2 separate regions of the Homo sapiens genome follow, and region 2 is linked to region 1. The links come from fine-mapping of genetic effects on gene expression. Tissue or cell type: monocytes after Pam3CSK4. Region 1 holds a variant in brackets; the other region holds the start of a gene. All regions are shown on one strand. Distances are from middle to middle.

Region 1 (15,702 bases):
GGAAAAAGCCAAAATGCCCATCAGTTGGGTAAAAAACTGTGGCGCATCCATGGCCTGAAACACTCTCCAGTGGTGAAAAAGAATGCGGGTAATAGAATTATTCTAACGTGGGTGGAAGGGTGCCCACAAAATAGTGTTCATTTTTCTTTTCTTTTTTTTTTTTTTTTGAGACAGGGTCTCACTCTATCACCTAGGCTGGAGTGCAGTGGTGTGATCTCAGCTCACTATAACCTCTGCCTCCCAGGTTCAAGTGATCCTCCCACCTCAGCCTCCCAAGTAGCTGAGAGCACAGGCTTAAGCCACCACACCTGGCTAATTTTTGTATTTTTATTTTTCATTTTTTTGGGGACAAAGTTTGGCTCTATCACCCAGGCTGGACTGCAGTGGTGTGATCTTGGCTCCTTGCAACCTCTGTCTCCTGGGCTCAAGCCATCCTCCTGCCTTATCCTCCCGAGTGGCTGGGACTATAGGCACACACTACCATGCCCAGTTAATTTTTCTATTTTTTGTAGAGACGGGGTTTCGCCGTGTTGCCCAGGCTGGTCTGGAACTCATGCCCTCCAACAGTCCTCCCGCCTCGGCCTCCCAAAGTGCTGGGATTACAGGTGTGAGCCACTACACCCAGCCTAGTGTTCATTTTTCAAAAGCAAGTTGCAACGCAATATTTGTATCATTTCGTCTACACAGAAAAAAAAGGAGAGGAAATTAAGTGTATATATGTTCTTATATGTGTTCAGAAAGTGTCAAAGAGACATTAAAAAACTGAAGTGTGGGCTGGGCACGGTGGCTCACACCTGTAACCCCTGCATTTTGGGAGGATGAGGCGGGAGGATCACTTGAGGTCAAGAGTTCGTGACCAGTCTGGCCAGCATGGTGAAACTCTGTCTCTACTAAAAATAAAAAAATTAGCCAGGAGTGGTGGCTCAGGCCTGTAATCCCTGCTACTAGGGTGGCTGAGGCAGGAGAATCACTTGAACCTGGGAGGCGGAGGTTGCAGTGAGCTGAGATCGTACGACTGCACTCCAGCCTGGGGCCTGGGTGACAGGAGACTCCATCTTAAACACACACACACACACACACACACACACACACACAACACTGAAGTGTCTGAGAGGCCAATGGGGAGGGATTTATTTACTTTTTTAGTAACTTTTTTTTTCCTGTACTTTTCGGTATACCTTAAAACAATGAATATGTCTTATTTTTATAACAGGAATTGTAGTGAAAATGTTGGGGTTTGCATACATCCCTCTGGTAGGGGGGCATCACCCGCATTTAAGACTCAGAGGAATTTGTGTCCCAAAAAGGGAAAGAGCCCTAGAAGAGATTTTTCCACTGTGGCCCAAGAGGGCAAAGACTTCAGCACCGGGTGAGGACTGAGCTGGAGTTCCGCAGTGACTGGGGTTCTCCACGTCTTCCTGGAAGGAAGTTTTTAAAGCCGTGGGCTGAGAATTCCAGGTCCTCTCAGACCTGCATTCACTTTGTCCTATCCCAGACCCAGGTCAGAGCCAGATGCCTCACACAGGGTCCTGGATGCCCTGGGGCTGACTCCAGTGCCCTGGGATCTCACCGTGGGCACTTTTGTCTTTTTTTTTTTTTAATTTAACTTTTTTAGAGACAAGGTCTTCCTCTGTCGTCCAGGCTGGAGTGCAATGGCATGATCATAGCTCACTGCAGCCTTGAATTCCTGGGCTCGTGCAGGCCTCCTGCCTCAGCTTCCTGAGGACTATAGGCATTCACCACAATGTGTGAAGTTTGTTTGCATGAAGTTTGCAGCTAATTTTAGGAAGCTTTTTTATTTTTTATTTTTTTGGAGATGGAGTCTCACTGTGTTGCCCAGGCTGGAGTGCAGTGGTACAATCTCGGCTCACTGCAACCTCCACCTCCTGGATTCAAACGATTCTCCTCAGCCTCCTGAGTTGCTGGGATTCCAAGTGCATGCCACCACACCCGGCTACTTTTTGTATTTTTAGTAGAGATGGGGTTTCACCATGTTGGCCAGGCTGATCTGGAACTCCTGACCTGAGGTGATTCGCCTGCCTTGGCCTCCCAAAGTGCTGAGGTTACAGGCGTGAGGCACCGGGCCCAGCTTGTTTTTTATTTTACTGATTGACTGATTTTTTTTTTGAGATGAGGTCTCGCTCTGTCGCCTTGGCTAGAGTGCAGTGGTGTGATCTCGGCTCACTGCAACCTCTGCCTCCCAGGTTCAAGCGATTCTCCTGCCTCAGCCTCCCAAGTAGCTGGGACTACAGGCATGTGCCACCACGCCTGGTTAATTTTTTTGTATTTTTAGTAGAGACGAGGTTTCACCATGTTGGCCAGGCTGGTCTCGAACTGCTGACCTCAGATGATCCACCTGCCTGGGCCTCCCAAAATGCTGGGATTACAGGTGTGAGCCACCATGCACAGCCATTAATTTATTTTATAGACAAGGTCTTGCTCTGTTGCCCAGGCTGGCATGCAGTGGCATGATCATAGCTCACTGCAGCCTTGAACTCCTGGGCTCACGCGATTCTCCTGCCTCAGGCTCCTGAGTTGCTAGGACTACAGGCATGCACCAACACGTGTGAAGTTTGTATGCATGGAGTTTTCAGCTAATTTTAAAAAGCTTTTTTAAGATATGAGATCTTGCTATGCTGCCCAGGTTGGCCTCAAACTCCTGGCCTCAAGCGATCCTCCCTCCCTGGCCTCCCAAAGCACTGGAATTACAGGTATGAGCCACTGGGTCCCAGCTCCAGACACCTTTTCAAGGCAAGTAGGAGCCAACCCAGGTGGGAGGCAGCCTCTCCGATTCCCACCCGCTCCGTACCTAGATTGTTGTCTGTGAGGACCTCCTTCACCCTCTTGGTGATGGAGTACGTGTCCAGCTCGGGGGACATGGCCACGATCTCCTGGATGCCCCCTGGGGCCTGGCTGCCTGAGTACATCTTCCCGCTCAACGAGGAGCTGGAGCGGCCCTCTGGCTGCTGGTTCTCCTTGCTGCTCTCCAGGGACAGGCTCAACGGCTCCTGGGAGCTCTTCTCAGGCTCTGTGGGGCTGGGGGGTGGGGATGGTGAGGACCTTGGTTCTGTGGGACTGGCTGTGGGCCACAGAGAAAGAGAAGGTGGTTACTATAATCTGGCACAGACACATCCACTTTCGGGAGGCTTGCTTCTTACAGCCAAGAGTTGCCAAACACCCATTTTGCAACCACTGTAGTAATAATCGCTCAGGTAGGGACCACCCTGGATGCTAAAACTAGTGGATGAAAGTTTGATGAGGACTGGACTGGGATTTCTACAAAGTCTCCAAGTATCTCCCCACATGATGCTTAGCAATTTTTTTTTTTTTTTTAAGACGGAGTCTCGCTCTGTTGCCTAGGCTGGAGTGCAGTGGTGTGATCTCGGCTCACTGCAACCTCCGCCTCCCGGGTTCAAGCGATTCTCCTGCCTCAGCCTCCCAAGTAGCTGGGACTACAGGCATGCGCCACTACGCCCTGCTAATTTTTTGTATCTTTAGTAGAGACGGGGTTTCACCATGTTAGCCAGGATGGTCTCAATCTCCTGACCTCATGATCCACCCGCCTCAGCCTCCCAAAGTGCTGGGATTACAGACATGAGCCACCACACCTGGCCGATGCTTAGTAATTACAAAGGGAAAAGTAGCCACTTTACAGTACAGAGACCTGGTTGGACTCTCTCTGTCACCCAGGCTGGAGTGCAGTGGTGCGATCTCGGCTCACTGCAACCTCTTTCCCGGGTTCAAGCGATTCTCCTGCGTCAGCCTCCTGACTAGCTGGGATTACAGGCACTGGTGGATACCATCTTAACCAATGATCCAAGTTACTATCACCAATCACAGGGCAAGTCAGCAACATGGGCCTCCTGAGAGGATGGCCTGAGAAGGACATGGCATCACTTCTGTGATATTCCCAGCCCCAAGTACACAGCCCGAATCTGATTTCAAGGGAACATCAGGCAACCAAACTCAGACTGTCCAGGAAATAACAGCCTCTACTCTTCAGAAAGGGCAACACTGGAAAACAAAGAAAGGCAGAACTGTCGAAATCAAAACATGAAAACTAAACACAAGTGATCTTGAATCTCATCCTGCACAGGGAAAAGAAATTTACATATTTTATTTAATTAATTCATTTTGAGACAGGGTCTTGCTGTGTTGCCCAGGATGGAGTGCAGTGGCTTGGTGATAACTCACTGCAACCTCGACCTCCTGGGCTCAAGTGATCCTTCCACCTTAGCCTCCCAAGCAGCTCGGACCACAGGTGTGCATCATCATGCCTGGCTCACTTTTCTTTTTTTGAGACAAGAGTTTCACTCTGTCTCAAAAAACTTCACCCAGGCTGAAGTGCAGTGGCATGATCTTGGCTCACTGCAACCTCCACCTCACGGGTTCAAGAGATTCTTGTGCCTCAGCCTCCTAAGTCACTGGGATTATAGGTGCATGCCACCACACCCGGCTAATTTTTTGTATTCTTAGTAGAGACGGGGTTCCACCATGTTGGCCAGGCTGGTCTCAAACTCCTGACCTCAAGTGATCTACCTGCCTTAGCCTCCCAAAGTGCTGGTATTGCAGGCGTGAGCCACAGCACCTGGCCAAGATTTATATATTGTATCTAAAAATTTATATAGCTCATAAAGGATATTATTGGGACAACTGAAGAAACCTGAATATAGATGGTGGGATACATGCCAGTATTTTACCACTGTAAAATTTCTTGTTTTTGGAAAGCACTTGTTGAAGCATTTAGGGCTAAAGGGACAAGATGTCAATGAATTCCTCAAATGGCAGAGAAAGAGCACGATTATGGCAAAATTAATAACTGTTCAAACTGGGTACAGTGCAGGGAGTTTGCTGTTCTACTGTTTCAATTTTTCTGTAAATTAGAAGTTACCTCAAAACGAAAAGTTAAATAAACGGCAACAACTAAAGAAGTCAGCAATGATCCAGCAATGATCTACAAGTTCAACCACAGGAGATTGGCTGAATAAAATATGGGGGATCCCTGCAGTGGGCTCTTCCGAGGCAATGAAAGAAAATGTAATGAAAAGATGTCCATGGTGCAATGCCACATTAAAAAGCTAGATTGGGGCCGGGTGCAGTGGCTCATGCCCATAATCCCAGCAATTTGGGAGGCCAAGGTGGGAGGATCACCTAAGGTCAGGAGTTGGAGACCAGCCTGGCCAAATGGTGAAACCCCGTCTCTACTAAAAAATACAAAAATTAGCTGGGCATGGTGGCACATGCCTGTAATCCCAGCTACTCGGGAGGCTGAGGCAGCAGAATCGCTTGAACCTGGGAGGCGGAGCTCGCAGAGAGCCGAGATCACACCACTGCACTCCAGCCTGGGCAATAGAGCAAGACTCTGTTTCCAAAAAAAAAAAAAAAAAAAAAGGTAGACAGATTTTTAAACTACATTTTTCATTTTTCTTTTTTTTTGGAGATGGAGTCTCACTCACTCTGTCGCCCAGGCTGGAGTGCAGTGGCATGATCTTGGCGCACTGCAACCTAGCCTCCTGGGTTCAAGTGATTCTCCTGCCTCAGCCTCCCCCATAGCTGGGATTACAAGCGTTTGCCACCACACCCGGCTAACTTTTGTATTGTTAGTAGAGATGGGGTTTCGCCATATTGGCCAGGCTGGTCTTGAATTCCTGACCTCAAGTGATCCACCCTCCTCGGCGCCCCCAAAGTACTGGGATTACAGGCTTGAACTACCATGCCGGGCCCATTTTTCATTTTTCAAAAGACATTTTGTGTGACTATATATTGGAAAAATGATTTGAAAGATATCTGGGGCTTGTGATCTCGGGTGGATGACTTTGCCAAGCCTCCGTCCTTCCATCTGTTAAATGGGGCCATAAGACACGTAGCATTATACATACTACTTGGGGCCATCGAGAGACCTCCATGAGATAACGTGGGGCAAGGGTCCACCTCCACCTCCTCTACCACCTCCACCTCCTGGGGCATTAGAGGCACCCATGGGAGTCCCAGTGTGAGCTGAGCCTCCTGAGAAACCAGGAAAGGTGGGAGCATCCCCAGGGAGGCACCCCTAATGGGTTGGCAAGCATGGTGTGGGGTCTAGGAATCCCAGCACTGGCCACACCTAATCCCAGCACATTAGAAAAAGATGCCTCTTCCTTGAGGCATTCAACTGCCACCTGCTGGAAACTTGTTAAAATAACCATTAAAATGTATGACAGCTGGAAGAAAAGGGAGCAACGGCTTTACTTTCAGAAGAGACATCCTGAGCCCAGGATGGGTTCCTTCCTTCTCTGTCGTGGGTGAGTTGGTCACTCGGATCAGACCACTCCTATGCTCCAGAATCATCAATGGCTCCCCATTGCCCCTTGTGCAAGAAATGTCTATCACCTTGTCTTGGTGATTAAGGCTCTGAACTCCCTTGTCCCTGCCAACTGGAGCTACAGCATTTCCCTCACTCCCCTTCACAAACATCTAGGCTCCTCTCTAAGCCCCTATGTCTTTGCTCAGGCTGGTCTTGCCATCCTGAGGACTTTCCTTCTAATCTTGAACTCCTATGCATTCCTCAAGATCCAGTCCTAAATGTCCCTTCCCTGAGGTCTATTAGACTTTTGGGGTCTAATAGCACCTTGAATATATATTGTCACAGTTTGCTATAATTTCTTGCTTGGGCCAGATCTCTTCCTTACTGATGACAATGATGATGATGTTAATAAATTCCCTTTATTGAGTACTTACTACATGCCCAGTGTAGTATTATGTGCTTTATGCCTATGATCCCTCTCTCTTTATATATATATATATATATATATATATATATATATATATATATATATATATATATATATATATATGTATATGTATTTTTAAATAGAGATAGGGTTTCACTATGTGGCCCAGGCTGGTATCAAACTCCTGGGCTCAAGTCATCCTCCTGCCTCGGCCTCCCAAAGTGTTGGGATTACAGGCATGGGTCACTGTGGCTGGCCAATGCTCATGATCTCAAGTGACCCTCATGACACCTCTAAGAGGTAAGTGCTATGTCATCCCATTTTATGGGTGAGGAAACCGAGGTTCAGAGAGGTTAGACAACGTGTCCAAGATCACACAGCAATAAATGGCAAAGTCAGGACTTGAGCTGGGGTTGGGTTATGCCCAACACTGTCCTCTCATCTACCAACTGTGAGCCCCTTGAAGGCAAGGACTACAAGTTAGTCACAGGTGAGTCCCCAGAGCCTGGGGGTGGGGCAGGGGCTCTGGGCAGATGCCTATGGAGTAATTTCAGCCAGGATCCCTGAGTACTCCTGAAGAGGGCAAGGTGAAGCCCCCGAGTTCGAAGTAGCAGCATCATGGCCCTTTGTGACCGTGAGGTCTCAAGAAGTCTACTGTGCCCCCAGCCCCAAGTGAGCTGATCCTGGCCATTCAGGTAGCATCCATGTGATGCCAAGGCTGA[C/T]GTGGGCATGTTCCAGGCTCACTGTTACCAACACTGATGCCATGTTGGTGTGGGAGGGCCAGTCTGGGAAAGTGAGAGTCTGTCCTAGGTGTCTGCCCACTGTCGGCAGCAGGAGAGGGGCTGGGGCCAGCTGGAAAACTGACGGTCTTTGGGCCGGGCATGGTGGCTCACGCCTGTAATCCCTGCACTTTGGAAGGCCAACGCGGGTGGATCACCTGAGGTCAGGGGTTCGAGACCAGCCTGGCCAACATGGTGAAACCCCATCTCTACTAAAAATACAAAAAATTAGCCAGGTGTGTTTGCACACACCTGTAGCCCCAGCTACTCTGGAGGCTGAGGCAGGAGAATTGGTTGAACCTGGGAGGCAGAGGTCGCAGTGAGCCGGGATTGCGCCACTGCACTCCAGCCTAGGTGAAAGAACAAGACTCCACCTCGAAAACAAACAAACAAACAAAAAACACAAAAAACTGAGGGTCTTTGAAGGCATCTCCCTCTTGGAAAACTATCTGCACCCATGTCCCAACCTAGAGGGCCAAGAAGCGAAGCGAACAGGATGACATGGAGATGATTGGCAGGAAAGAACACAGCCACCCCCCAATCCCACTCCCCCAGGGAGAACCCCGCCTTTCTGACTCCTCTGACTGAGAATCGCTTCTGACGAAGTGATGGAAAGATTCAGAAATTATCTCTATCAGGAAGACTGTGCTAATTACAGGGCTGGGGGAGTCACATGTGAACAACTGGGTTATTTGGAGAGGGAGGCGACGACAGGGAGAGGCAGGGTCTTCTTGCCTTGCTGGGCTTGTGGGTGGGGTGCCAGACAGGGCTGTGGGCAGCTGGGGACAGGAGAGAGAGCAGAGTGACCAACCCATCCCAGTCTGCCCGCGACTTTCCTTATTTTACTACAGAAAGTTCCAGATCCTGGGAAATCTCTCTCTCCTGGAGAGATAAGGATGGTGCAAGAGAGATGAAAAGAGAGCACTGGAGGGACAGGGAGGGTCAGGGAGGAAGAGACAGAGCAAACAGAGGGGGAGAGAGATGGTGAGAGAGGCAGGGGGAGAGAGAGAGTGGGGTGGGGGGAGGAGAGGGAGAGGGAGAGAGGGAGAGAGGGGGAGAGAGAGAGAGAGAGAGAGAGAGAGAGAGAGATAGGTGAATCAAAAAAATGCAGAGTGAGAAAAACAGAAAGAAGACAATGGAGGTGACTGGGTGCAGTAGCTCATGCCTGTAATCCCAGCACTTTGGGAGGCCAAGGTGGGTGGATCACCTGAGGTCAGGAGTTCAAGACCAGCCTGGCCAACATGGCAAAACCTGTCTCTTCTAAAAATACAAAAAATTAGTTGGGTGCCTGTAATCCCAGCTACTTCGGAGACTGAGGCAGGAGAATTGCTTGAACCCAGGAGCCGGAGGTTACAGTGAGCCGAGATCACACCATTGCACTCCAGCCTGGGCGACAGAGTGAGACTCTGTCACACACACACACACACACACACACACACACACACACACAAAAGAAATTGGAGGAGAGAGACAGAGATCAGGAGAGAGACAGAGGGAAGACAGGGACTGTGTATGGGGACAGGACAGGGCTTCCTTGACTGCTTGAGAATTCTGAGAAACCTCGGATGGAAGGGTCTGGAATACTGATGCTGCCACGGTAGGTAGCGCCGATTATACCCGGGGCTGCGCCTGGCAGTGGACGTGGGGATAAGGGCGTGCTTTATAACCCTCCCGTGGCATCTGGCTCAACTTCAGTAACAGGTATGGTCAGGGTTCCAGTGCCGGTCCCTGCCCGCCCCAGTGGCCAGGGCATACACAAGCGGGGCTTGGACAGGTCCTGACACCCAGCCCCACAGCCAGACTCTGTGGGACTTTGTGGGCAATGGATACACCCTTTTGCTTCCAGGCCCAGTGGGTTATGAACAAGCAGAGGCTGTGAGGGTGGCTCTGCCATCACCACTCTCTCCCTAGGGCCAGCAGCTACAGTAGCCACCTCCAGGCCTGATTCCCTCATCATTATTATTATTGTTTTTGAGACAGGGTCTCGCTCTATTGTCCAGACTGGAAGGCACTCACTCCAGTTCACTGCAGCCTTGACCTCCTAGGCTCAAGCATCCTCATACCTCAGCCTCCTGAGTAGCTGGGACTACAGGCACCTGCCACCATGCCCAGCTGATTTTTGTATTTTTGTAATTTTGTACAGAAGGGGTTTTGCCATGTTGGTCAGGCTGGTCTCAAACTCCTGACCTCAAGTGATCCGCCTGCTTTAGCCTCCCAAAGTCCTGGGACTACAGGTGTGACGCACTGTGCCTAGCCTTGGCTTCCTATTCTGGGAGAGCAGGGGACCCCGCCACCTCTACTCACATCCCTTCCCAGGCCGTGCATGGTCCCACCTCCTAGCCGCTGCCTGTGCCATTCCTTCCACAAGGAGCACCATTCTCCATCTTCTCTGCTTACCTCTATCCTACCTGTGGTCAAATCCTTCCATGACAATAAAATCTACAACCAAAACAATCAGACATTGGGGAAATGCAAATAAAAACTACAGTGAAATACCACTTACACACCCACCAGGATGGCTAGCGTCAACAAATGGGAGATAACCCATGTTGGTAAGGACCTGGAGAAACAGAAACCCTTTGAACTTCCTCAGTAAGTTAAACACAAGAGTTACCATATGATCTAGCCAACTGTACTCCTAGATATATGTTCGAAGAACTGAAAATGGGGGTTCAAACACAAATATGTACACAAATTTTCATAGGCGCATTATTCAAAATAGTCAAAATGGGGTCTATCCATACAATGGAATATCATTTAGCCATAAAAAAGGAAGGAAATTCTGATGCATACTACAGCCTGTATGAGCCTTGAAAACACGTTAACTGAAAGAAGCCAGCCACAGAAGGCCAAGTAGTACAGGATTCCATCTATATGAAACATTCAGAAGAGGCAAATCCAGACAGAAAGAAAGCGGAATTCCAGGAGCTGGGGGGAAGGAGGATGGGCAATGACTGCTGGATGGGTATGGGGTTCCTTTTTGGGGCGGTGGGAATATTCTGGAATTAGACAGAGGTGATGGTCACACGCATTGTGCATGTATTAGATCCACTGAATTGTATACTTCAAAAATGGTTTAAAAGGTACATTTTACGTTATGTGATTTTTGTTTGTTTGTTTCTTTGTTTGAGACAGAGTCTCACTCTGTCACCCAGGCTGCAGTGCAGTGGTGCCATCCGGCTCACTGCAACCTCTGCTTCCTGGGTTCAAGCGATCCTCTCGCCTTAGCCTCCCGAGTAGCTGGGATTACAGATGCGTGCTACCACACCCGGCTAATTTTTGTACTTTTAGGAGAGACGGGATTTCTCCATGTTGGCCAGGCTGGTCTCAAATTCCTGGGCTCAAGTGATCGGCCCGCCTCGGCCTCCCAAAGTGCTGGGATTACAGGTGTGAGCCACGGTGCCCAGCTGTTATGTGAATTTTACTACAGTAAAAAAGTTAGTTAAAACCTAACACCACAGACCAGGCGCAGTGGCTCACCACTCCAGCCTGGGTGACAGAGTGAGACTATGTCTCAAAAAACCAAAAACCAACCCCCTCCATCACCACAACACTATAAAACAAAACCAACCCCTACCCCACCACAAGACTATAAACAAAACCCACCCCTCCCCCAACACAACACTATAAACAAAACCCACCCCTCCCCCACAACACTATAAACAAAACCCACCCCTCCCCCACCACAACACTATAAACAAAACCCACCCCTCCCCCACCACAACACTATAAACAAAACCAACCCCTCCCCCAACACAACACTATAAACAAAACCCACCCCTCCCCCACCACAACACTATAAACAAAACCCACCCCTCCCCCACCACAACACTATAAACAAACCCACCCCTCCCCCACCACAACACTATAAACAAAACCAACCCCTCCCCATCACAACACTATAAACAAACCCACCCCTCCCCCACCCCAACACTATAAACAAAACCCACCCCTCCCCCACCCCAACACTATAAACAAAACCCACCCCTCCCCCACCACAACACTATAAACAAAACCCACCCCTCCCCCACCCCAACACTATAAACAAAACCCACCCCTCCCCCACCACAACACTATAAACAAAACCCACCCCTCCCCCAACACACTATAAACAAAACCCACCCCTCCCCCAACACACTATAAACAAAACCCACCCCTCCCCCAACACAACACTATAAACAAAACCCACCCCTCCCCCAACACAACACTATAAACAAAACCCACCCCTCCCCCACCACACTATAAACAAAACCCACCCCTCCCCCACCACAACACTATAAACAAAACCCACCCCTCCCCCAACACAACACTATAAACAAACCCACCCCTCCCCCACCACAACACTATAAACAAAACCCACCCCTCCCCCACCACAACACTATAAACAAAACCCACCCCTCCCCACCACAACACTATAAACAAAAAAGGATGGAAGTCTTTTCCCAGGTAGGCTCTGGGGTAGACACATTTCGGGACCCTAGGGGGCAGGAAGCCTGATGGCCCACAGCCCAGGGTGCTCATCCTAGGTCTGCCACTCACTGGATGATGGCCTTGGGCAAGTCACTGCACTACCATGCCCCTGGATTTCCTCATCTGTGAAATGGAAATGATAAACAGTCCCTTTGGTGGAGACTGACATGAAGATTACAGGACAAAGCACTTTGACCACTTGGTGCTATGTGTGGTAAGTGGCAGCGGTCATTAGCATTAGCATGGCTGCTTTTTTTTTTTTCTTTTGAGACGGAGTCTCGCTCTGTCGCCCAGGCTGGAGTGCAGTGACAGGATCTCGGCTCATTGCAAGCTCCGCCTCCCGGATTCACACCATTCTCCTGCCTCAGCCTCCTGAGTAGCTGGGACTACAGGCGCCTGCCACCACGCCCGGATAATTTTTTTTTTTTTTTTGTAATTTTAGTAGAGACGGGTTTCACCGAGTTAGCCAGGATGGTCTCAATCTCCTGACCTTGTGATCCGCCTGCCTCAGCCTCCCAAAGTGCTGGGATTACAGGCATGAGGCACCCCACCCGGCCAGCATGGCTGCTTTTAATCCTCGTTACAGCCTTATGGAGAGGAGTTTTTAAATCATTGTATTTATAAACTATTAAAAACATATAGAAATATACAGACAACAATATGTAAGTCCTCCCCTCCCTTCCACCCATCACCGTAATCGATGCTGACACTTCACCCCCGTCACTTCCAATCTTCCTTCTTGTTTTAAAGAAACAGGAAAGGGCCAGGTGCTGTGGCTCACGCCTGTAATCCCAGCACCTTGGGAGGCCAAGGTGGGTGGATCACCTGAGGTCAGGAGTTCAAGACCAGCCTGACCAACATGGAGAAACCCCGTCTCTACTAACAATACAAAATTAGCTGGGCATGGTGGCGCACGCCTGTAACCCCAGCTACTCGGGAGGCTGAGGCAGGAGAATCGCTTGAACCCGGGAGGCAGAGGTTGCAGTGAGCCGAGATCATGCCATTGCACTCCAGCCTGGGCAACAGAGCAAGACTCTGTCTCAAAACAAAAACAAAAACAAAACAAAACAAAAAAAAGAATAGGAAAGGAGCAGAGCAAAGTCACCACGCCCTGCCTCTTCCTGGCCCCCTCCCTGCCCAGTGCAACCTCCCTCCCCAGCTGGGGGGCTGCCTCCTTATGCATTTCTTTCTTTCTTTTTTTTTTTTTTTTGAGACAGAGTCTCACACTGTTGCCCAGGCTGGAGCGCAATGGTGAGGATCTCAGTTCAACTGCAACCTCTGCCTCCCAGGTCATGTGATTCTCCCGCTTCAGTCTCCTAAGCAGCTAAGATTACATGTGCACGCCACCATTTCCAGCTAATTTTTTGTATTTTTAGTAGAGACGGGGTTTCACCATGTTGGCCAGACTGGTCTCGAACTCCTGACTTTGTGATCCGCCCGCCTTGGCCTCCCAAAGTGCTGGGATTACAGGTGTGAGCCATCACACCCGGCCTATACATTTCATTTTATTAATTCTTTTAGAGATGGTCTCACTTGCCCAGTGCAGTGTGAGATGCACTGCAGTGGCATGATCATAGCTCACTGCAGCCTCGAACTTCTGGGCTTAAGCGATCCTCCTGCCTCACCCTTACAGGCACATGCTACCATACCCGGCTAATTTTTTATTTGTAGAGATGAGGTTTCGCCATGTTGCCAAGGCTGATTTCAAACTCCAGGCTTCAAGAGATCCTCCTGCCTTCACCTCCCAAAGTATTGGGATTACAGGCGTGAGCCACTGTGCTCGGCCTCCTTTTTTCTGAGACAAGGTCTTACTCTGTCACCCAAGCCGGAGTGCAGTGGGATGATCACAGCTCAAGTGATCCTCCTGCCTCAGCCTCCCGAGTAGCTGGGACCACAGGTACGTACCATTCCAACTGATTATTTTTATATTTTGTAGAGACACGGTCTCCCTCTATTGCCCAGGCTGATCTTGAACTCCTGGCTTCAAGAGATCCTCCAGCCTCAGCCTCCCAAAGTGCTGGGATTACAGGCGTGAGCCCCCATGCCTGTCCTCAGCCTCTTTTTAAATATTAATGCATAAGTCTGCAGCCATACAGCTACACCAGTGTGCAGTCTCATCCTGTAGGTGTTAGCTTCTATAGTAAGCACTGTCACTGGGATGGAGGCTTTTGTCACTTGACATTATGTTTCCAGTCCATATTCCTGTTGATATGGGCCTGCTGACCTGGCTCGTTTCTGTGAACCTGAGATATGGTTTTGTCCTATTGACAAGACTGAGCTCAGATCCTTGGACTCAGGGTCTGGCCTCCCCTGGTCTCTGCCCTTCTCAGTGGGCAGGTCTGATGTCCTCTCCTTGCAGTCACGTGCCCTCATTCCAGTGCAGGGCCCGGGTAGGTGCCTCACCAGGGCCCTGGCAGACTTATCCGCTGGTCCCCACAGTGGCAGGGAGCTGGGGCTCCCCCTAGCACTTCCGGACTCTGGGACTTTGGGCATCCCTCTGAGCCTCCGTTTCCTCACCCGGGCAAAGCTGACACTCCAGCCTGCTCGTGCTATCATGGGCAGCTGGGTGGCACTGCCCAAGGCCCTGTGCTAAGAAGGAGTCTGAGGCTGCACGCTAGGTCTTCAGGAAACAGAGCTGAGATCGATGAGCAATTCCAGATGTGGGACTCCACATGCAAAACACATTCTCCACCTGCTCTGAGCACCATGGAGCCACTTGGAGGCTTAAAGCCAGGACCCAGTGCATCAGGCGTGCAGCTTCTAGAAGCCTCCCTCTGGTTGGAGGAAGGAAGAAAGGGGAGCAGAGAAACCCCAGGACCCCCCGCCATGTTCCAGTGCAGCCATGACAGTGACTGGGATGAAAGCCAGGGCAGCAGGGAGGGAGAGATAGGTAGACTCGGGCAGTAAAGCCAGGCGGACATGCCACTGCGCAGGTGGGAAGTTTGCCAGCACCCCCTGAGATGCTCCTGCCCGCACTCACCCTGGGAGGCACCAGGCTGCTGGCCCACTGCCTGGCCGAGCTGGTCAGAGAGCCACAGCTGCATGCGGATGAAGGGCTCCCGCCCCTTCTGCGTCAGCTTGCTCCATGGCTTCGGCCGGGACAGCATGTCGCTCACGCTGCCCTGTGACAGGCCCAGCACCTGCGAGGGGCGGGCCAGGGGGGTAGGTCAGCAGGCCCCTGGGACATGGGCCTGGCCCTCACTCTCCTCCCCAACCTTTTTTTTTTTTTTTTTTTTTTTGAGGCAGAGTCTCGCTTTGTCTGTCGCCCAGGATGGAGTGCAGTGGCACCATCTCAGCTCACTGCAAACTCCGCCTCCCAGGTTCAAATGATTCTCCTGCCTCAGCCTCCTTAGTAGTTGGGACTTGTACCAGGCTGGTGCACGTCTGGCTAATTTTTGTATTTTTAGTAGAGATGGGGTTTTGCCACATTGGCCAGGCTGGTTTCGAACTCCTGACCTCAAGTGATCCACCCAACTCAGCCTCCCACAGTGTTGGGATTATAGGTGTGAGCCACCATGCCCAGCCTCCCATCCCCTCCCCTCCCCTCTGTTGGAGTCCAGGCGGCCTTCATTTGTTCCTCATAGGTGCCTGCCATGTGCTGTTGCTGTGCCCTTCCCCTCCAGTACCCTCCCTAATGTCCCTACATGTAAAAATCCTTCAGTGCCCCCCTCCTCCAGGAAGCCTTCCCTGACCTCCCACTTAAGTCATTTCTCCCTCCTCCGAGCTTGCCTGGCCCTTTGCCT
Region 2 (15,702 bases), 41 kb before region 1:
CCCGCCTCGGCCTCCCAAAGTGCTGGGATTATAGGCATGAGCCATTGTGGCTGGCTCTCCTGGTTATTTAATGTCAATGGAAACTTTATTTCTTTTCATGGCTAAGCACTATTCCATCAAATGGATGTACCACAATTTGTTTCTCCATATATCTGTGGATGAATATTTGAGTTGTTGCTAGTTTCTGGTGTTTCTGAATAAAGTTGCTATGAATAGTCACATACAGGTCTTTGTGTGGTCATGTTTTCATTTCTCTTTGGTAAATACTTTGGAGTGGGATTACTGGGTTGTACATGGCGAGTTTCTGTTCTTTTTTTTTTTTTTCTTTTTTTTTTTTTTTTTGAGACAGACTCTTGCTCTGTCACCCAGGCTGGAGTGCAGTGGTGCAATCTTGGCTCACTGCAACCTCTGCCTCCCAGGTTCAAACAAGCCTCAGGCTCCGGAGTAGCTGGGACAACAGGCGCATGCCACCACGCCTGCCTAATTTTTGTATTTTTAGTAGAGATGGGGTTTCGCCGTATTGGTCAGGCTGGTCTTGATCCTGACCTCAGGCGATCCACTCGTCTTGGCCTCCCAAACTGCTGGGATTACAGGCGTGAGCTACTGCACCCGGCCTTTTTATTTTTTTTTTGAGACAGAGTCTTGCTCTGTCACCCAGGCTGGAGTGCAGTGGTGCGATCTCGGCTCACTGCAACCTCCACCTCCAAGGTTCAAACGATTCTCCTGCCTCAGCCTCCCAAGTAGCTGGGATTACAGGCGCCCACCATCACGCCCAGCAAACTTTTGTATTTTTAGTAGAGATGGGGTTTCACCATGTTGACCACGCTGGTTTCAAACTCCTGACCTCAGGTGAATCCGCCCACCTCAGCCTCCCACAGTGCTGGGATTACAGGCATGAGCCACCTTGCCTGGCAGAGTTTCTGTTCATTTTTACAAGAAATTGCCAATTTGTTTTCCAGAGTGGCTATACCATTCTACCTTCCCATCAGCAGTATGGAAGTTCAGTTGTTCCACATCCTCACCAGCACTTGGTGTTGTCAGTCTTTTTAATTTTGGCCTTTCTAATTGGAACATGGTATTAGCTCATTTGGTTTCAATTTGCATTTCTCTGATGTGTAATGACACTGGGCATCTTTTCATTGCTTATTAGCCAGTATATCATATTATAGCTTTTTTTTTTTTGAGACAGAGTCTCACTCTGTGTCGCCCAGGCTGGAGTGCAGTGGCACAATCTTGGCTCACTGCAAGCTCTGCCTCCTGGGTTCACGCCATTCTCCTGCCTCAGCCTCCCAAGTAGCTGGGACTACAGGCGCACGCCACCATGCCCAGCTAATTTTTTGTATTTTTAGTAGAGACGGGTTTTCACCAGGTTAGCCAGGATATTCTCAATCTCCTGACCTTGTGATCCACCCACGTCGGCCTCCCAAAGTGCTGGGATTACAGGCGTGAGCCACCACACCTGGCCCATATTACAGCTTTTTATAAAATATCTGTTAACATCTTTTGCCTGGGCCAGGCATGGTGGCTCATGCCTGTAATCCCAGCACTTCAGGAGGCCCAGGTGGGAGGATTGCTTGAGTGTAGGAGTTCGAGACCAGCCTGGGCAACATGGTGAAACTCCATCTCTACCAAAAATACAAAAAAAAAAAAAAAAAAAAAAAAATTAGCCAGGCATGGTGGCGCGCGCCTGTAGTCCCAGCTACTTGGGAGGCTGAGATGGGAGGATGGTTTGAGCCTGGGAAGCAGAGGTTGTCGTGAGCGGAGATCATGCCATTGAACTGTAGCCTGGGCAACAGGACCAAACCCTGTCTCAAACACACACACACACACATCTTTTGCCTGTCTTTAGATTGGGTTGCTTATCTTATTATTGGGTTGTAAGACTTCATTATATAGATCTGGCATTCAGATTCTGTCAGATATATATATCAAGAAAATTTTTTTTCTCAGTTAGTTGGTGGCTTATCTTTTTGTTTCTCTGATGGTATCTTTCCTTTCCTTTCCTTTTCCTTTTCCTTTCCCTTTTCCTTCCTCCCTCCGTCCCTCCCTCCCTCCCTCTCTCTCTCTTTTTAAACAGGTTTTAAAAACAACCTTTATCTTTTTTAAAGTCAATATGGGCCGGGTGCAGTGGCTCACACCTATAACCCCAGCACTTTGGGAGGGTGAGGCCGGCAGATCACCTGAGGTCAGGAGTTCGAGACCAGCATGGCCAACATGGCAAAACTCTGTCTCTACTAAAAACACAAAAATTAGCCAGGCATGGTGGCACACACCTGTAGTCCCAGCTACTTGGGAGGCTGAGGCAGAAGAAATGCTTGAACCCAGGAGATGGAGGTTGCAGTGAGCTGAGATTGCACTCCGGCCTGGACAACAGGGCAAAATCCTGTCTCAAAAAAACAAAACAAAAAAAACCCCCCAACCTACTGAAGTCCAATTTTTATTTTTTTCTAGTTTATGCTCTTTGAGTCTTAAGAAATCTTTATCCTAAAGTTGTAAAGATTTTCTATTTTATTATTTTTAGTTCCTTTTTTTTTTTTTTTGAGGTAGAGTCTTGCCCTGTGGCCCAGGCTGGAGTGCAATGGCGCGATCTTGGCTTGGTGCAACCTCCACCTCCCGGGTACAAGTGATTCTCCTGCCTCAGCCTCCCGAGTAGCTGGGATTACAGGCATGTGCCACCATGCCTGGCTAATTTTGTGTATTTTTTTTTTTTTTTTGAGACAGAGTCTCGCTCTGTCGTCCAGGCTGGAGTGCAGTGGTGCAATCTCAGCTACTGCAACCTCCACCTCCAGGGTTCAAGCAATTCTCCTGCCTCAGCCTCCCAAGTAGCTGGGACTACAGGCACACGCCACCACACCCGGCTAATTATTTTTATTTTTAATAGAGCCAGGGTTTCACCATATTGGTAAGGCTGGTCTCGAACTCCTGACCTCAGGTGATCCACCCGCCTCGGCCTCCCAAAGTGCTGGGATTACAGGCATGAGCCACCATGCCCGGCCCAATTTTTTGTATCTTTAGTAGAGATGAGGTTTCACCTTGTTGGCCAGGCTGGTCTCAAACTCCTGACCTCATGATCTGCCCGCCTCGGCCTCCCAAAATGCTGGGATTGCAGGTGTGAGCCATCGTGCCCGACCTTATTTACTTATTTTTTGGAGACAGGGTCTCACTCTGTCGTTCAGGCTGGGGTGCAGTGGCGTGATCCTAGTTCACTGCGGCCTTGACCTCCTGGGCTCAAGCGATCCTCCTGCCTCAGGTTCCTGAGTAGCTGGGACTACAGGCATGCGCCACCACACCCAGCTAATTAAAAAACAATTTTTTAAGAGATGGGTTCTTACTATTTTGCCCAGGCTGGTCACTAACTCAGGCGATCCTCGCACTTTGTTTGGCCTCCCAAAGTGCTGAGATTACAGGCATGAGCCATTGTGCCTGGCAGCCCCTATTTTCTTCTAGAGATTTTAGAGTTTAGCTTTTATGTGCAAGAGTTTGATGTATTTTGAGTTAATTTTTATGTATGGCATGAGGTAAGTATCAAGGCTGTTTTTTTCTATATGAATATCCAGTTATTCCAGCTCAATTTGATGAAAAGACTAATCTGGATTTTTCCCTTCGAATCTCCATTTTTCCCATTACTTAGGTCCAAAAGTTGAGAGTCCTTTTTATTTTTATTTTTTATTTTTTGTAGAGACGAGGTCTCCACCCACCTTGGCCTCCCAAAGTTCTGGGATTGCTGGTGTGAGCCACTGTGTCCAGCCCTGGGTAATATTTTTATCATTTGTAGAGATGGGGTCTCCCTGTGTTGCCCAAGCTGGTCTCAAACTCCCAGGCTCAAGTGATCCTCCTGCCTCGGCTTCCCAAAGTGCGGGGATTACAGATGTAAGCCAGCATACCTGGCCCTGGAGTTCTTTTTCTTCTTTTCTTTTTTTTTGTTTTTTGAGACAGAGTTTTGCTCTGTCGCCCGGGCTGGAGTGCAGTGGGGTGACCTCAGCTCACTGCATCCTCTGCCTCCCGGGTTTAAGCAATTCTCTGCCTCAGTCTCTCGAGTAGCTGGGATTACAGGCACCCACTACCACGCCTGGCTAATTTTTTTTGTATTTTTAGTAGAGACGGGGTTTCACCATCTTGGCCAGGCTGATCTCAAACTCCTGACCTCGTGATCCACCCACCTTGGCCTCCCAAAGTACTGGGATTACAGGCGTGAACCACTGTGCCCGGCCCCTGGAGTTATTCTTAACTCCTTTTCTTCCTTCCTCTCTCTCTGTCTCTCTCTCATTCCCCACATGCAACCTATCATCAAATTTTACATATATCTTAAATATATATTAATGTGGTTTGGCTGTGTCCCCACTGAAATCTCAACTTGAATTGTATCTCCCAGAATTCCCATGTGTTGTGGGAGGGACCCTGGGGGAGGTCATCGAATCATGGGGGCTGGTCTTTCCCGTGTAATTCTCATGAGAGTGAATAAGTTTCATGAGATCTGATGGGTTTATCAGGGGTTTCTGCTTTTGCTTCTTCCTCATTTTCTCCTGCCGCCACCATGTAGGAAGTGCCTTTCACCTCCCGCCATGACTCTGAGGCCTCCGCAGCCACGTGGAACTGTAAATCCAATTAAACCTCTTTTTGGCCGGGCGCAGTGGCTCACGCCTGTAATCCCAGCACTTTGGGAGGCTGAGGAGGGCAGATCAAGAGGTCAGGAGTTCGACACTTGGACACAGGATGGGGAACATCACACACCGGGGCCTGTCGTGGGGTGGGGGGAGGGGGGAGGGATAGCATTAGGAGATGTACCTAATGTAAATGACGAGTTAATGGGTGCAGCACACCAACATGGCACATGTATACATATGTAACGAACCTGCACGTTGTGCACATGTACTGTAGAACTTAAAGTATTTAAAAAAAAAAAGAGGTCAGGAGTTCGAGACCAGCCTGGCCAACATGGTGAAACTCCACCTCTACTAAAAATACAAAAAATTAGCCAGGCGTGGTGGCAGCTGTAATCCCAGCTACTCAGGGGGCTGAGGCAGGAAAATTGCTTGAACCCAGGAGGCGGAGGTTGCAGTGAGCTGAGACTGCACCACTGCACTCCAGCCTGGGTGACAGAGTAAGACTCCATCTCAAACAAAAACAAAAAAACCCAAAAAATCTCTTTTTGTTCCCAGTTTTGGGTATGTCATTGTCAGCAGTGCAAAAATGGATGAATACAGTAAATTGGTACCAGGAGTGGAGTGTTGCTGAAAAGATAGGCAAAAATGTGGAAGTGACTTTGAAACTGTAACAGGCAGAGGTTGGAACAGTTTGGAGGGCTCAGAAGAAGACAGGAAAATGTGGGAATGTTTCAAGCTTCCTAGAGACTTGTTGAATGGCTTTGCCAAAATGCTGATAGTGATATGGACAATAAAATTCAGGCTGAGGTGGTCTCAGATGGAGATGTGGAACTTGTTGGGAACTGGAGCAGAGGTGACTCTTGTTATGTTTTAGCAAAGAGACTGGCGGCATTTTGCCCCTGCCCTAGAGATCTGTGGAACTTTGAACTTGAGAGAGATGATTTAGGGTATCTGGTAGAAGAAATTTCTAAGCAGCAAAGCATTCAAGAGGTAACTTGCAGGCTGGGAGCGGTGGCTCAAGCCTGTAATCTCAGCACTTTGGGAAGCCAAGGTGGGCAGATTACCTGAGGTCAGGAGTTCAAGACCAGCCTGACCAACATGGTGAAACCCTATCTCTACCAAAAATACAAAAAATTAGCCATGTGCAATGGCGTGCACCTGGTGCCAGCTACTCAGGAGGCTGAGACAGAAGAACCGCTTGAACCCAGGAGGCGGAGGTTGCAGTGAGCTGAGATCACACCACTGCACTCCAGCCTGGGCAACAGAGCAAGACTCTGTCTCAAAAAAAAAAAAAAAAAAAAAAAAAGAAAAGAAAAGAAAAAAATAAGAAGTAAATTGTAATAGAAAGAAAAGCCCATTTTCTGGGGAGAAATTCAAGCCGGCTGCAGAAATTTGCATTACGTAGCAAGGAGCCTAATGTTAATCCCCAAGACCATGGAGGAAATGTCTCCAGGCCATGTCAGAGAACTTCCTGGCAGCCCCTTCCATCACAGGTCCAGAGGTCCAGGAGGAAAAAGTGGTTTTGTGGGCCAGGCCCTGGGTTCCTGTGCTGTGTGCATCCTAGGGAGTTGGTGTTCTGTGTCCCAGCTGCTCCAGCCATGGCTGAAAGGCACCAACACAGAGCTCAGGCTGTGGTTTCAGAGGGTGGAAGCCCCAAGCCTTGGCAGCTTCCATGTGGTGTTGAGCCTGTGGGTGCACAGAAGTCAAGAATTCAGGTTTGGGAACCTCTGCCTAGATTTCAGAAGATGTTTGGAAATGCCTGGATGCCCAGGCAAAAGTTTGCTGCAGGGGCAGGGCCCTCATGGAGAACCTCTGCTAGGGTGGTGCAGAAGGGAAATGTGGGGTTCAGAGCCCCCACACAGAGTCCCTACTGGGGTACTGCCTAGTGGAGCTGTGAGAAGAGGGCCACCATCCTCCAGACTCTGAAATGGTAGATCCACTGACAGCTTGCACTGTGTGCCTGGAAAAGCCACAGATACTCACCACCAGCCCGTGAAAGCAGCCAGGAGGAAGCCTGTACCCTGCAAAGCCACAGGAGTGGAGCTGCCCAAGATCATGGGAACCCATCTCTTGCATCAGCGTGACCTGGATGTGAGACCCGGAGTCAAAGGAGATCATTTTGGAGCTTTAAAATTTGACTGCCCCACTGGATTTCAGACTTGCATGGGCCCTGTAACCCCTTTGTTTTGGCCAATTTCCCCCATTTGGAACGGCTGTATTTACCCAATACCTGCATCCCCACTGTATCTAGGAAGTAACTAGCTTGCTTTTGATTTTACAGGCTCATAGGCAGAAGGGACTTGCCTTGTCTCAGACAAGACTTTGGACTGTGGAATTTTGGGTTAATTCTGAAATTAGCTAAGACTTTGGGGGACTGTTGGGAAGGCATGATTGGTTTTGAAATGTGAGGACGTGAGATTTGGAGGGGCCGGGGCAAAATGATATGGTTTGGCTGTGTCCCCACCAAAATCTGAACTTGATTTGTATCTCCCAGAATTCCCACGTGTTGTGAGTGGGACCCAAGAGGAGGTCATTGAGTCATGGGGGCCAGTCTTTCCTACGCTATTCTTATAATAGTGAATAAGTCTCACGAGATCTGAAGGGTTTATCAGGGGTTTCCGCTTTTGTTTCTTCCTCACTTTCTCTTGCCACTGCCATGTAAGAAGTGTCTTTCACCTCCCGCCATGATTCCAAGGCCTCCTCAGCCATGTGGAACTGTAAGTCCAATTAAACCTCTTTTTGTTCTCAGTTTCGGGTATGTCTTTATCAGCAGTGTGAAAACGGACTAATACATATATCCATTAAATATATATCTATACTTAACCACTTCTCTCCACCTCCACTGCTCCACTCTAAGCCACCACCATCACTTGCTTGGACTACTGCAGTAGTGTTCTCCCTGATCGCCTGGCTTCTACTATCATTCCCTGCCCATAGCAGTCAGGGACCATGTTAAATCTAACACAGACCATGTCCCTCCTCTGCTCAAAACCCTCCCATGGCTCCTCATTCTTCTTAGAGTAAAAGCAAAATCTTTCCTCTGGTCCTTAAGCCCCTAGGTCACCTGGCTTTCTGGCTTTGCCAATAATCTCTGATCTATTGTGTTTTTTTTTTTGTTTTTGTTTTTTTTTTGTTTGACAGAGTCTTGCTCTGTCACCCAGGCTGGAGTGCAGTGGTGCAATCTCAGCTCATTGCAACCTCTGCCTCCTGGGTTCAAGTGATTCTCCTGTCTCAGCCTCCCAAGTAACTGGGATTACAGGTGTACACCACCATGCCTGGCTAATTTTTTTTTTTTTTTTTTTTTGTATTTTTAGTAGAGACCGGGTTTCACCATGTTGGCTAGGCTGGTCTCGAACTCCTGACCTCAAGTGATCTACCTGCCTCGGCCTCCCAAAGTGCTGGGATTATAGGCGTGAGCCACTGCGCCCAGCCAGCTGACCTATTTTCCTACTATTCTTCCCATTGCTCACTTGGCTCCACTGGTCTCCTCGTTGTTCTTCAAACATGCCCAGGATGGCCCCATTTCAGGGCTTTTGCACTTGCTGTTCCCTCTGCCTGGGACCTCCTTCTCCCAGATAACCACATGGCTCCCTCCCTCATTCCTCCAGGTCTGTCCTCAGAGAGGCCTTCCCTGACCACCTTGTCTAAAAGCTGCACTTCCAGCTTGGGCAAGATAGCAAGACCCCCCCGATCTCTACAAAAAATTAAAAAAAATTAGCCGGGTGTGGTGGTACACACCTGTAGTCCCAACTACTTGGGAGGCTGAGGTGGGAGGCTCGGTTGAACCCAGGAGTTCAGGTTACAATGAGCTGTGATTGTGCCACTGCACCCCAACCTGGGTGACAAAAAAACACAAAAAACAAAAAACAAAAACAAAAAAACTGCACTCCCAGGCTTTCTGCCCCATTGCCTTAGCGTACAGTCCTAGCATGAATCACTTCCAGAACTCATTTGTGTTGTCTTGATTCCTGGCTGCACCTGCTTACCTGGTTCAGGTACAGTGCCTGGCACACAGTAGGCGCTTAGTGAGAGGCTGTACAATGGAGAGCTGACCCTGGTCTGTCCTGTTCTTCCTGCTTTCAGGCCAGGACTTAATAGTGATTGGGAGGTGGCGGGTGGTGGAGAAGAGGCGGCAGGAACAGGAAGGAAGGGTTCAAGGAGGTGGGCAGGGCAAAAACAACAGCAATTCCTATTTCTTGAGAGCTTTCTGTTGTGCCGTGCACTTTACATATCATGATGGTCTTTATTTTCCGGATGAGGAAACGGAGGCTTAGAGAAGTGAAATGATTTCTCTAAGCTCACACAGTGTTCAGTGGCCTAGTGCGACTCGAACTCAAGTCTGCCTAATTCCAGAACTTCCTCTCTTCACCTGGAGCCAGGGGAAGCTTGCGAGGCGCCCTGTCCGTATGGAACAGTGCTGTACGCAAATGTCCTGGATTCAGCTGTTTTTTCTGCCACTCACACATTTTTCAGGAATTAGAGCTATTTTTCTAATTTAACTGGGCATTAAATTTGCTAAACCTGGCAACCCAGGTTTAGCAAATATTTTTATTATTTGTAGAGATGGTGGTCTCCCTCTGCTGCCCAGGCTGGTCTTGAACTACTAGGCTCAGGCAATCCTCCTGCCTCGTCCTGGGGGGAGTTCGGACTTAAGCCTAGGACTTCAGCGAATGGCCCGCCCAGGACCCCCAAATGCTTTTGCAGGCTAATCCACGACCTGGGCCAGTCCTTACCTTTGGAATCGCAATGAGCTTCCCGGGCTCCAATCCGCTTTTCTGGGCTAGGGAACTGGGGAGTCGCGAGCCAGGAGCGGACCCTTTAAGAGTGATTTCGAGGGCGGGCTCACGGGGGCGTGCCGGTTCGGGGCCTGCCAATCGGGAGGTGGGAAGAACGCGGGGGCGGGCCCGGCGCGAGCAGGCTGGGAAGGGTTAAAGGGGCGCGCCCGTGGGTCGCGGACTGTCCGGTTGCTCCCGCCTCCTTCCGTCGGATCCGCGCTCTCCCGCGGCTGCGCCGGCCCGGCCGCCCAGGAGACAAAGCGCTGCCGCCGCCGTCGCCGCCACCGGGCCAGTCCCGAACCATGGCCGGGCCACCCCGCAACCTCGCGCCTCCCGTCCCGTCGCCGCCCTAGGCCTGCGCTGCGAGGTAAGGCGGGCCTGGCGGGGGGACATGCACGAGGACATGGGACCCGGGTCGGGCCGCCCTGGGCCTCGGGGTCCCCCGGCCACCTGGAGAGCGCGTTGCGGGGATCTTCCCCGCTGGGACTCCGCACCAGTGGTGACTTCTCCAGCTGCCGAGGCGAACTTGGCCAATGACCACCCTCCCCTCTCTCAGCCCATAGGGACGTCTGCCGCTGGTGGGGACTGCGGATAAGCCCCCCATTCTGCCGCTGATCACCCATCTGGGGCTCTGGCTGTCCTTTAAGGAACTTAAGAGAGCTCCCACGCACAACACACAAAGGGACAGAGAGCAGCCGGGAGCAGGGCCACACCTGGAGCAGCAGCCCCTGCCGTGGACAAGGGGGCTGCCTGTGTCTGGACGGCGGTGCTGGCGTGTCTCTGGGGTCCCTGCTGGGGCGGTGACGGCCAGGCTGCTCTTTAGTGTTCTTGGCACACATGTTTTTCAGCCTGTGCCTGCCACACCCTCTTCCCCACGCCCGCTGCTGGGGGACACTGAGGGCAGCTGGATTCAACCCCAGGACCTGCGGTACTGGCTTCTTTTCGTTGATGTGAGTGCCAAAATGCCATGCTTCAGTCTCCCAGGAGACCTGGGTTCCGGGGCCAGCTGTGCCCCTGGAGATCTTGGATGAATTATTTGCCTTTTTGACAGCTCTTTCCCTGAAAGCTCACTACCCACCAAGTATTTTGCAAAATGACTCTTCAGGAGTCAATTCACTCAGCCCTTAGAGGGATGGAAGTTAACGTCACCATTTTGCAGATGAGGCTGAGAAAAAACTCCGACTCACAGCAGCTAATATTTGCAATCCATTTCCCATAGTTTGCCAGTGGGTTTTCCTTCTTTTAGCTCATGAACCCTCGCCACACAGCCCAATTTAACAGATGAGGACACTGAGACTTGGAAAGGTGAAACGACTTGTCCAAGGTCCTCCAGCCTGGACCTGCGGAGGCAGGAACTTTGCCTTGGGAGCAGAGCTGGGCCAGGCTCCCTCCAGCTTCCTGTCTGGCCATGGGCTGTTGAATCAGCAGCAGTGCCCACAGTGGACTCTGAACTTCTTGGAAAACAGTGTGGGGAGATAAGGCAGGGGCCAGGCCTTCGCTCCAGGCAAGGCTGGCGCCTGTGCCCCTGCAGCTTCCTGTCTTCCCAGTTCTGGTGGAGGCAGGGGTCATGGGCAGAGCTGGGTCCTGTGCCTGCTGGTGACCTTGAACCAGTTTGGCCTCTATCTAGGCAGTCGGGGGAGGAGGGTTGCTGAGCAGGAGGGAAGTTGCTATTCCTTTGGCCTTGATGGGGTGGAGAGACCCCAAGATCAGCCCCTTTATTTGGGTGGCTTGCCTGGAGCATGTGATTCTGGGCACAGTTGTATGCCTCTAGCCAACTTATTGAATCTCCCTGTGTCCATTTCCACATCTGTGAATGTGGGGTGAGATCCCTTGTCTTGGGGCTGTTGAAAGGTTTCAGAAGATACTGCAGAATGAATCAAACAGCTGTGTGAGTACCTACTGCATGCCAGGCACTAGAATTCAGACCACAAACGCCCCTGCAGGCAGAAATGACCCAGGTATTAATTTCAGGTGGAGGCACAGGAGAGGGACTGGGGGGCCTCTTGTGCATAGGGTGGCCAGGGACCACCTCTCTGAGGAGGTGACAGCTAGGCTGAGACCAAAGGATGGGGAGCTGGCCTTGTGAAGACCTGCAGGCAGACAGCCGGGACCAAGTCTTGGAGGTGGGGATGTGTCTGGTGTATTTGAGGAACAGAAAGGAGGCCAGGATGGCTGGAGCTGAGTGAACAAGGGGGAAAGAGGTAGGGAAAGGGAACTTGGAAGCCAAGGGAGGCTTGGATTTTTTTTTTTTTTTTTTTGAGACAGAATCTCACTATGTCACCCCCCAAGTTCAAGGGGTCCTTCCATGTTAGCCTCCCAGATAGCTAGGACTAGAGGCTTGTATCACCATGCCCAGCTATTTTTTTTTCTATTTTTTATAGAGATAGGGTCTTGCTATGTTGTCCAGGCTGGTCTCTAACTCAAGCAATCCTACCCCCTCAGCCTCCCAAAGTGCCAGCATTACAGGTGTGAGCCACCGCACCCTGCCTAAGGATTTAATTTTATGCTGAGAGAAGTAGGGAGCCATGGGAGGGTTTAGAGCAGAGGAGGAGTGTGATTGGACTTAATTTTCACAGGATCCATCTGTGGGAAGTGGATTTCAGTGTGGCTCGGAGAAGAGCTTAGGAAGGAGGCTTGGATCTTACCTTGAGGAACATGGACAGGGAGGGGCAAGGAGACTTATGAGGAGGCTACAGCAGCCATCCCAGTGAATGGTGATGGGGCCTAGAATGGGGAGGTGGAGTGGACAGATTAGGCAACTGATTTGGAAGACGCTGGAGAGGGGGATCAACTGGACTTGATGTGCGATCAGATGCGGGGGTGAGAGGGAAACCAAGGGCCATTTGCTGAGATCGGAAGCACAACACAGGGATGTTTGGGGAAAAGCCAAGAAAAATGTGAACTGCAACCGCGCTCAGCAGGCACTGTGTGCCTGGCCCCATGCTCCGCAAAGTCCATATAGTCACTGTATCATTGTCACAACAGCCCTGACTTAGGCACTGTTACGATCCCATTTTACAGATGCAGAAACAGAGGCCCAGAGAGATGAATAGCCTGCCTGGGGTCCCCCAGCCCAGATGCTGCAGAGCTGACATTTGAATCCAGAGAAGAGCGAGCTGAGGCTGGAGCTGAGCAGAGGGCAGGGAGGCAAGTGGTGGCCTGAGAGGTAGGAGCGGAACTGGGCAAGCAGGGCGGGAGGGTCCTGTGAGAACCGGGGCCAGCATCCACATGGGAGTTGATGGGTGGTGGTGTGGGGAATGCGTGAATCCCTGCGGCTTAGAGAGGGACAGCTGTAGCTGAGAGGCAGGGTGGGGATTCAACACCTGGAGACTTTGGGGGCTCTGGCCTTGGCCTCCCACTAGGTCAGGACAAACTGACCTCAGTTTCTTTTTTTATTTTAAGTTCCATGATACATGTGCAGAACATGCAGGCTTGTCACATAGGTATACGTGTGCCATGGTGGCTTGCTGCACCATTGACCCGTTCTCTAAGTTCCCTCCCCTCACCCCCGATCCCCCAACAGGCCCCGATATGTGTTCTGCCCCTCCCTGTGTCCATGTGTCTCATTGTTCAACTCCCACTTATGAGTAAGAACATGCGGTATTTGGTTTTCTGTTCCTGTGTTAGTTTGCTGAGGATGATGGCTTCCAGCTCCATCTATTTCCCCGCAAAGGACATGATCTCATTCCTTTTTATGGCTGGATAGTTTTCCATGGTGTGTATGTACCACATTTCCTTTATTCAGTCTATCATTGATGGGCATTTGGGTTGGTTGATCTCAGTTTCTAAGTCACAACTCATGTTCCGTCTTCTAGGAAGCCTTCCCTGACTGCCTATGTGGCTGACAGGAGGTGGCAAGGACAACCCCCTCCACCCTAGGACAGGTAGTCTGGCAGGGCCTCACTGCGGTCACCTGCTCCCAGGAGAGCCACCACCCTGACCTCATTCCACCAGGCTCTGAGAAAGACACCACCCAGGCAGGGGAATGAACACTGAGTGCCTACTGCGTACCAGGACTTTATATCCTTTGCTTCTTGAAAAATGTAGCTACCATCCTATGCAGGCTGAGGCTCTGCAGTGGGAGATAAGGCAGGCTCTCAAAATGGCCATGGAAAACCCCAAGGGAAGGTGGCCAGGCCAGGGACGCAGATGCCACCTCCCGACAAGTCCTTCCTGGCCAGCGTTGCCCCATCATATACTCCTTGGGGGAAGGTGGATGGGGTCACTGTGGCCGATGGCATGGAGTTAGAGTCCTCTATGCTAAATGGCACGGGTCGACCCCCTGCCCCTCCTTCCTGTAAGTCAGCCTAGCCCTGGGCCTGCATCTTTCCCCAAATTCTTTCTTTTTTTTTGAGACGGAGTCTGGCTCTGTCCCCAGGCTGGAGTGTAGTAGTGCAATCTCGGCTGACTGCAACTTCTGTCTCCTGGGTTCAAGCACTTCTCCTGCCTCAGCCTCCCAAGTACCTGGGATTATAGGCACCCCCCACCATGCCTGGCTATTTTTTTTTTTTTTTTGAGATGGAGTCTTGCTCTGTCGCCCAGGCTGGACTGCAATGGCGCAGTCTTGGCTCACTGCAACCTCCGCCTCTTGGGTTCAAGCGATTCTTCTGCCTCAGTCTCCCAAGTAGCTGGGATTATGGGCGTGCACCACCTCACCTGGCTGTTTTTTAGTAGAGATGGGGTTTTGCCATGTTGGCCAGGCTGGTCTCGAACTCCTGACCTCAGGTGAGAAGGATTGGCCTTGGCCTTCCAAAGTGCTGGGATTACAGGCGTGAGCCACTGTGCCCAGCCCCTGTCTTACTATTTTCCATAGAACATGAGACTACCTGGCAGACGTCTTATCTGTTTGTTAACTGTCTGCTCCCTTTCACTTGCCAGTGGCATTTCAACACCACGAGGGCAGGGACCGTGTCCATCTTTTTTTTTTTTTTTGAGACAGAGTGTCACATTATTGCCCGGGCTGGAGTGCAATGGCATAATCTCGGCTCACTGCAACCTCCGCCTCCTGGGTTTAGGTGATTCTCCTGCCTCAGCCTCCCGAGTAGCTGGGATTACAGGCGCCCGCCACCACGCCTGGCTTATTTTTTGTATTTTTAGTAGAGAAGGGGTTTCACTGTGTTGGCCAGGCTGGACGACCCTGTCCATCTTGTTATTGCTATATCCCTAGGCCTGGAACAATGCCTGGCACCCAGTAGATGCTTAATAAACATTTTATGAATGAAATCAATCTCTACAACTCTCCAAAGTTGGTTCTGCTCATCCATTTCATGGATGAACAAACCAAAGTCGAACCACAAAGTCAGGGCTGGGACCTGGCAGGGACTGCAGAAGGCCAGCTGGTCTTGTTCTTGGGATGATGGAAACAGCAGCGCCTGAAATGAGGCCTGGGTTTGGATTTCAGCCCTGCCCAACCTGCTTTGTGACACCAGGGAAGCAGTTAACCTCTCTGTGCCTCTGTTTCCTCATCTGTTGCACTGGTGCCAGGCCAGTCCCTGTGACCTAAGGTCTATTGTGAGATAAAGTGAGTTCATTCCTCTGAAATGTCTGGCATGCAGCAGGAACTCACAACATTATTTCAGGGATACAGGAGGGTAGGAGGTTATGAGGCTGTCTGGGGAGGCCCGTGAGACCCAGGTTCCAGTCCTGTCTCTGCTTCTTAGGAGTTGTGGGCGCATAGGCCAGCTGCTTCCACCCTATGAGCGTCAGTTTCCTCATCTGTGAAACGGGGATGTAGAGTGGCTGCAAGGTCCCCTTGGGGCACTGGGTGACCTAGCGTCAGTGGCCTTGTGCATAACAGCCCTTCTATGGGGTCCAGGCCCCAGGCTCCCCTCCAGGCCCCGCGATTGCCACCATGAAGCTGAACGAGCGCAGCCTGGCCTTCTACGCCACCTGTGACGCCCCGGTGGACAATGCAGGCTTCCTGTACAAGAAGGGTGGGCGGCACGCGGCCTACCACCGGCGCTGGTTCGTGCTGCGCGGGAACATGCTCTTCTACTTCGAGGACGCTGCCAGCCGTGAGCCCGTGGGCGTCATCATCCTGGAGGGCTGCACTGTGGAGCTGGTGGAGGCCGCCGAGGAGTTCGCCTTCGCTGTGCGCTTTGCGGGGACCCGGGCGCGCACCTACGTGCTGGCCGCTGAGAGTCAGGATGCCATGGAGGGCTGGGTCAAGGCCCTGTCGCGTGCCAGCTTCGACTACCTGCGGCTGGTGGTGCGCGAGCTGGAGCAGCAGCTGGCGGCTGTACGTGGCGGGGGTGGCATGGCCCTGCCCCAGCCCCAGCCCCAGTCCCTGCCCTTGCCCCCGTCCCTGCCCTCTGCCCTGGCCC

Direction of the effects. Positions count from the first base shown, and alleles are read on the strand shown. Sizes are in standard deviations (SD) of each study's normalised expression.
With allele T in place of C in region 1, the expression in monocytes after Pam3CSK4 of the gene that starts at base 9,563 in region 2 is higher (moderate effect, 0.60 SD a copy in Quach 2016).

Evidence for each region. PIP is the estimated chance that this variant, and not a neighbour inherited with it, causes the effect.
Region 2: it holds the start of PHETA1, and the variant in region 1 is fine-mapped to the expression of PHETA1 in monocytes after Pam3CSK4 (Quach 2016, PIP 0.95).

Annotation. Positions count from the first base shown.
Region 1 is chr12:111,321,818-111,337,519 of GRCh38, reverse strand. It overlaps CUX2 (cut like homeobox 2), which reads right to left. Exons shown (of 22, transcript NM_015267.4): 18 at 14,940-15,099; 19 at 2,810-3,079. Among named protein-coding and RNA genes, the nearest start is that of MIR6760, 26 kb to the right of the region's middle. The variant C/T (reference allele first, on the strand shown) is at 7,433.
Region 2 is chr12:111,362,956-111,378,657 of GRCh38, reverse strand. It overlaps PHETA1 (PH domain containing endocytic trafficking adaptor 1), which reads left to right and starts at 9,563. Exons shown (of 3, transcript NM_144671.6): 1 at 9,563-9,746; 2 at 12,401-12,545; 3 at 15,195-15,702. The coding sequence starts at 15,231. LINC02356 (long intergenic non-protein coding RNA 2356) reads right to left here and starts at 9,397. Exons shown (of 4, transcript NR_187522.1): 1 at 9,338-9,397; 2 at 6,588-6,689. RefSeq lists a silencer at 9,393-9,972.